2 linked regions of the Homo sapiens genome follow. The protein of the gene in region 2 purifies or fractionates together with the protein of the main gene of each other region. This does not show direct contact. Each region holds a gene or a part of one and is shown on either strand. Other genes may lie near its edges.

What was found.
Region 1: the proteins of CEP97 (region 2) and BTBD2 purify together in Homo sapiens (affinity purification with western blotting, with the first as the bait; one study listed by BioGRID). This does not show direct contact.

What each region holds. Positions count from the first base shown.
Region 1 is NC_000019.10:1,991,682-1,995,333, forward strand, and holds part of BTBD2 (BTB/POZ domain-containing protein 2), read right to left. Parts: intron 1,496-3,652; coding exon 1,339-1,495; intron 376-1,338; coding exon of another isoform or gene 196-375; intron 1-195.
Region 2 is NC_000003.12:101,766,114-101,769,765, forward strand, and holds part of CEP97 (centrosomal protein of 97 kDa), read left to right. Parts: 3' UTR 1-3,652. UniProt on the Homo sapiens protein: Acts as a key negative regulator of ciliogenesis in collaboration with CCP110 by capping the mother centriole thereby preventing cilia formation. Required for recruitment of CCP110 to the centrosome.

The DNA of each region.
Region 1 (3,652 bases), on a different chromosome or scaffold from region 2:
GACCCAGTGCCGCTGTCCCCTCTGGCCACCCTCCACCCCCGACCAGGAGCTCACGGCTCCCAAGCGGCCGTCCACCCGTACTGGCCCCACGTCCTCTCAGCCTCCCTGGCCTGCACGACCTCCCCAGCCCCCGCCCTTTGGGCTGCACAGAGCCCAACTGGGGTCCCCTGAGATCCCTGGCCCTGCTCTGTCTACCTGACATTTCCTTAGAGAGAGAGAGAAAGTTCTCTCTGGTTTTTTTTTTTCTTTTTTTTTAGCCAGGCGCGGTGGTGGGGGCCTGTAATCCCAGCTACTGTGGAGGCTGAGGCAGGAGAATCGCTTGAACGCTGGAGGCGGAGGTTGCAGTGAGCTGAGATCGTGCCATTGCACTCCAGCCTGGGCAACAAGAGAAACCCCGTCTCAAAAAAAAATTATTTTACTTTTTTTTTAGAGACAGGGTCTCACTCTGTCACTCAGGCTGGAGTGCAGTGGCGCCATCTCCACTCACTGCAGCCTCAACCTCCCGGGCTCAGGCAATCTTCCTGCTTTGGTCCCCCAAGTAGTTGAGATTCCAGACATGCACCAGCGTGCTTGGCTAATTTATGAAATATTTTTTTTTAGTAGAGATGAGGTTTCACCATGTTGGCCAGGCTGGTCTCAAACTCCTGACCTCTGGTGATCTGCCTGTCTCAGCCTCCCAAAATGCTGGGATTACAGGCATGAACCACAGTGCCCGGCCTGAATCTTTTTTTAATTTTTTGTAGAAACGGGGTCTCTCTATGTTGCCTAGGCTGGTCTAGAACTCCGGGCCTCAAGCAATCCTCCCTACTTGGCCTCCCAAAGTGCTGGGGTTACAGGCGTGAGCCACCGCACCCTGCCAATAATTTTTTGAAGTATCACGGAAAAGTCCAAAACACATCTTTTTTTTTCAGGTGGAGTCTCGCTCTGTCATGCACGCTGGAGTGCAGTGGTGCGATCTCGGCTCACTGCAACCTCCACCTCCCAGGTTCATGCAATTCTCCTGCCTCAGCCTCCCAAGTAGCTGGAATTACAGGTGCCCGCCACCACGCCCGGCTCTTTTTTGTGTTTTTAGTAGAGATAGGATTTCGCCATGTTGGCCAGGCTGGTCTGGAACGCCTGAGCTCAGGTGATCTGCCCGCCTCGGCCTCCCAAAGTGCCGGGATTACAGGCGTGAGCAACCACGCCCGGCCCAAAACACATTTTACTACCAGGCAGGAGCCTGCTGCCTCCCGGGCCCGCCCCCGGCCCCGCCTCCGCCTCCAGCCTCGGTCCGCCCCACCCCGGCCCCGCCTCCAGCCAGGCCTGGCCCCGCCCCCGCCTCGTACCGGCCCCGCCCACCTGCGTGAGCAGCATGAAGGCGTTGTCGGCTCGCAGGTTCTTCTTCAGGAACTCCACGCAATGGGCCTCGAGCGCTGGCACCGCGTACTTCTTGGCGGTGTATAGCGTGGTCATCACCGTCTCCGGGCCAATCTGCACCTCGTCCGAGTAGAGAAACCTGCAGAAGCAACGCGGGTGGCCGTGAGGTGGGACCGCCATGCCCGCCCCCAGGGGAGAGCGTCAGGGGACCACTCAGACCGTTAGACTCGGCCACCGGCCCTTGAGCTGGCAGGACCCAAACACCCACATCAGGTTCCCCGAGGAACCTTCCAGAATTAGCCCCTGTCCGTTGCCCTCTGACATAGGGACACGACTTGGCAAGGTGGTCACCCATGAAAACGAGCAAGAGGCTGAACCCATCTACACAGCACACACCCGGAAGCGTCTATATGGCCTGTCTTGTTCTGCCCGGGATGCCCCAGGAGAGGGCACTGGGAGCTGGGTGTCTCCTTCTTGGGCACCTTTTCCATGAGGAACTGTTGGTTCCCCACCTCGGGCACCACCGAAAACCTCAACCACTTCTGGGTGGATCATAGAACCCAACACGCTAATTAGGATCATGGATAATCATGGACGCTATTACCACCTGCCAGCGAGGGGCCCACACGACACTGAATACAGATCAGAAGTTGGGCCGATCAAAAATAGAAGCACAGGCTGGGCCTGGTGGTTCACGCCTGTAACCCCAGCACTTTGGGAGGCTGAGGCGGGCAGATCGCCTGAGGTCAAGAAGTGCCAGACCAGCCTGGCCAACATGGTGAAACCCCGTCTCTACTAAAAATACAAAAATTAGCTGGGCGTGGTGGTGGGCGCCTGTAGTCCCAGCTACTTGGGAGGCTGAGGCAAGAGAATCGCTTGAACCTGGGAGGCAGATGTTGCAGTGAGCTGAGATCTCGCCACTGCACTCCAGCCTGGAGACAGAGCGAGAATCCGTCTCAAAAAAAAAAAAAAAAAAAAAAAAAAAAAAAAGCAGCACAGGCCGGCCTGGTGGTTCACGCCTGTAATCCCAGCACTTTGAGAGGCCGAGGCGGGCAGATCACTTGAGGCCAGGAGTTAGAGACTAGCCTGGCCGACATGGCAAAATCCCCCTCTACTAAAAATACAAAAATTAGCCAGGTGTGGTGGCAGACACCTGTAATCCCAGCTACCTGGGAGGCTGAGGCACAAGAATCGCTTGAACCCAGGAGGCGGAGGTTGCAGTGAGCCAAGATCGTATCACTGCACTGCAGCCTGGGAGACAGAGTGAGACTCCCTCTCAAAAAAAAAATAAAAAATAAAAAAATGTCTCCAGCCTGGAGCAGTGGCTCACATCTGTAATCCCAGCACGTTGGGAGGCAGAGGCGAGAGGATTGCCTGAGACCAGGAGTTGGAAACCAGTGTGGGCATGGTGAGATCCTGTCTCTAAACACATTTTTTTTTCAGCTGGGCACAGTGGCTCAGGCCTGTAATCCCAGCACTTTGGGAGGCTGAGGCAGGCGGATCATGAGATCAGGAGATCGAGACCATCCTGGCCAACATGATGAAACCGGGTCTCTACTAAAAATACAAAAATTAGCCAGGCGTGGTGGCGTGTGCCTGTAGTCCCAGGTACTCAGGAGGCTGATGCAGGAGAATCACTTGAACCCGGGAGGCAGAGGTTGCAGTGAGCCAGGATCGTGCCACTGCACTCCAGCCATGGTGGCAGAGCGCTACTCCATCTCAAAAAATGAAAAAATAAAAAAATATTTTTTTTCTCTCCCAGCCTGTGGGTGGCATTTCCACTCTGCCGGTATTGTCCTTTGAGGTATACATTTTTAACATTTTCCCTAAGTCCAATGTCTTTGTTTATTCTTTTCTTGGCTGTGTCTTTGGTGTCATATCCAAGTAATCATGGTCAAACCCAATGTCATGAAGATTTGATTCTGGTTTTTCTTTTTTTGTTGTTGTTGAGACAGAGTCTCGCTCTGTCGCCCAAGCTGGAGTGCAGTGGCGCAGTCTTGGTTTACTAAAACCTCTGCCTCCCAGGTTCAAGCGATTCTCCTGCCTCAGCTTCCTGAGTAGCTGGGGTTACAGGTGCCTGCTACCATGCCCAGCTAATTTTTGTATGTTTGTAGAGATGGGGTTTTGCCTTGTTGCCCAGGCTGGTCTCCAACTCCTGACCTCAGGTGATCCACCCACCTCAGCCTCCCAAAGTGCTGGGATTACAGGTGTGAGCCACCGCGCCTAGCCATACTTTGGATTCTTTTTTTTTTTTTTTTTTTTGAGAGGGAGTCTTGCTCTGTTGCCCAAGCTGGAG
Region 2 (3,652 bases):
AAGGTAGGATTATAAGATTTCTCAATGGGGATGATTAAATTGTCTCATGGAAAACTTCAGTTAATGTCATGCATCAGTTTTAACATATGAAGTAAAGTGTTCTATCCAGGATTAAAGTCAAGTTTACTTAGGCAACACAAGAATATTTCACTTAGATATGAAGAAAGGAAACACTAGTCTCCATTCACTTGAAATACTCTCATGGCAAATATTTATCCTCTCATTAAGTGCTTTTTCACCCTATAGGTAAGCATTTTTGTGCCAACATGTTGTCAGAAATTAATGTATGTTCATCTCCTCTGTTCCTGCTTATTTTTACTTATATATTTCAGCAGAAGGTCCGTGGCCATTCACTTCAATTTTGACCTCTGTCCCATAGTGAAGAACATTTAAAGTAATACTACTGGTCGAATATGAATGACTTTTTAGGAACTACTTTTTGTCTAACCTGAAAAAGTTCCACATTTGGAAGACAATTTAATGATGGTGAAGAAATAATAAACCTCACTTTACTTGTTAAAAGGGATATATATATATATATATATGTCTGCAACTTCAGGGAGAAATAAGATTGTGTTTGAATATTGTAGGTAGATGCATTTGTAATTAAGGATAATATCGTTTAACAACATGTATTTGGTTTCCCTCAACTTACAGACATACAGCTATTTAAAACTATGGCAATACTTAAGCATCTCTAAATTTAGGTGCTAAATATCTATTATTCTGTTGTAGTCATTAGGTGCCCTTCTCTGAAGTTATGTAAAATAAAAGCATCTGATCCTTCAAGGATAAAGTTGAGGATCACATGGTACGTGGCATTTGTTGTTATTGTTTTTTAAAGAGATGGAGGCTGGCTCTGTTGGTGCGGTGCCATGATCATAGTTCACTATAACCTCGAACTCCTGGCTCAAGTGATCTCCCACTTCAGCCTCCCGAGTATCTGGGATTATAAGCAAGAGCCACTGCTCCCAGCTCATGGTATTTGTTGATAGTCATAACATTTTTCCTGTATGGTAAGACGTATTTTTCTCAGTTTATAAATACGTAGCACTCAGGTTGAGACGACTTGGATTTTATTCTTAGAAATCCAGAATCCCTTGAAAAGGAAATATTTTCTGTTTCTTATAAATAAAAGAGTAATCTTACTTTCAGAAGGATTTTCCTTAGTGAAACATGTGTAACATTGAATGCATGTTAAATAAAAATGGAATTTCTAACTTTTTTTCAATAGTGCTAATTATCTTTTCTGAATGATTTTGAATGTCTTCTTAAATATACCCTATTTTTCTATTTTAAAGTTAAGTGCCTCACTTGCTGTCCATAGTTAGACAAAGAAAAACCAATTTCCACTGCACTAGTACCAAAATACTACTTTATACATTAGTTTTTCATAAAAGCTGCTGGAATGTCATGATTCAGTATTACCTAAATAGATTTCTGCTAAAATCCTCTCCCTCCTGTCTTTTTTAAGTTATGGAAAAACACAACTAAATTCATTTGATCATCAGCACTTGTTAGCAGGATTTCCTTTTTTACCTTTGCCTTGTTTCTTTAGCCCACAAATAGTACTCAGCATACTTTCATTAAAAATTTGGCACAATATGATAATTGTTAATATTCTGTTCTTCGTCTGTGTTTTATTTAACTTTTACTAGTGTTTAGAAGTGCAAGAATATTAAATAGCCCCTTCCTTAACTGTACATATTATCTTGAATGTAGATAAAATGAAAATACTGTAAATTAGAGTGTAGGAAAACTGGCATAGAGTTAATATATTTTAATGGGTTTACATTATACTTTAAAAGTAATTTATATAATTAAAATATTTGGTTTTAACTCTATGGGCTATTCTTTGGTTGGCTGAAGAGGGAATGGGTCTAGTAAGGTTTGGAAAGTTAAGCTTTGAACATGGTCTTTGTGTTTTTTTCCTAACAAGGAAAGGTTTAGTTCAGCTGTGCTATTTTAGTACACATCAGTTCTCTTGATTTATGGAAGATTCAGTTTATCAATTAAGAATTCCTGCAGAAGCACAGAATCATACCATGTAAGAGTTGGAAGGAAGCTTAAGAGATTTCTGTTCGAATCTCTTTGTTTCAAAGATGAAACTAAAGCACAGCATGTTAAATGACTTGTCTAAGTTATAGCTAGTTAGTAGTAAATAAACTGAAAACCTATATGCTACTGTAGTCCAAAATTTTATTATGTCCTCTTAATCTTTACATTTAGTGAGTCAGTAAGGAAATCTCTGCATATTTCTCATTCTCTTTGAAAGAGGAAAAAAACTTCTAAGAGAGCTACAACTCTATCACTCATGACAGAGTTGCTTGTAGAAAATAACTAATTCCTTCAGAACCCTGAGTGAATTTTTTCTAAGAAATGTGACTTGATTAAAATGGTTTCAAAAGAGCAATAGTGGAAATTAAAGTTTTAGAAAAGAGACCTGGCGTGGTGGTTGACAACTGTAATCCCAGTGCTTTGGGAGGCTGAGGCCAGAGGATCACTTGAGGCCAGGAGTTCAAGACCAGCCTGGACAACATAGCAAGACCCCCCTCTCTACAAAAAAAATTTTTTTCTGAAAAGAATAAGTACATTTTAGAGTCCATTTATTTGACGACAGGCAGTATGACAGGTTGCTGAGGTATATAAAATTTTCTAGAGAAATGCTGAGTTTGATGACATTTTATCTTCAGTTTTGTAGAACAGATGTTAAAATGTTAACTCTCCTGGTGTGCAGAAAGCTGTAATCATGACAGTTGATAATATGCAATTTAGTTTGATTTTATAGGTTTAATTATAAAAGGCTTCACAATATGCATGTTTTAGGAAAATGTTCATTTATTTAGTCATATAATCGTTTGTATATATGTAAATAACTTTATTCTGGAATAATGTGGGTGCCATCTTGAGCGTGTGTTTTTATCTGTTTTGGATTATTTTTTGTATACAAACACCATAATACTGTATTTTCCTGTTATCTACTTAAGTCTAGTTCTACTTTTTCCCAATAATTTCAGGAAAATACAAGCTTGAGATATTATACTATCTCCCTTGGTATTTTTTGTGTGCAAAGTCTTAGAATTGGATTTATAACATTGATAATAAAAATATAAAACGTTTTTCCTCGGGAGTTAAGATGGTAAAAAGAAAAAAATAGAATGAATATGATCATTTCTCCATCATAAAGGAAAGAAGAGACTTCATTGTGTGTGTGTTTTTTTTTTTTTTTTCGAGATAGAGTTTCACTGTTGTCACCCAGGCTGGTCTCAGCTCACTGCAACCTCCACTTCCTGGGTACAAGCGATTCTCCTGCCTCAGCTTCCTGTGTAGCTGGGATTACAGGTGTGCAACCACAAGGCTCGGCTAATTTTTTTGTATTTTTAGTAGAGATGGGGTTTCACCATGTTGGCCAGGCTGGTCTCGAACTCCTGACCTCAAGTGATCCACCCACCTCGGCCTCGCAAAGTGCTGAGATTACAGGTGTGAGCCACTGTGCCCAGCCGAGACTTCATTGTTTAATGTATATTTTTATTTTTTCCAAACACCAGCTCGAATCAGAGTATATTTTTATTTTGCCACATACCTTTAAAAGGTATTTATTGTGTCATAATGTTTTAAATGTTAAATATATGATACCCTCATTCATGAAGTG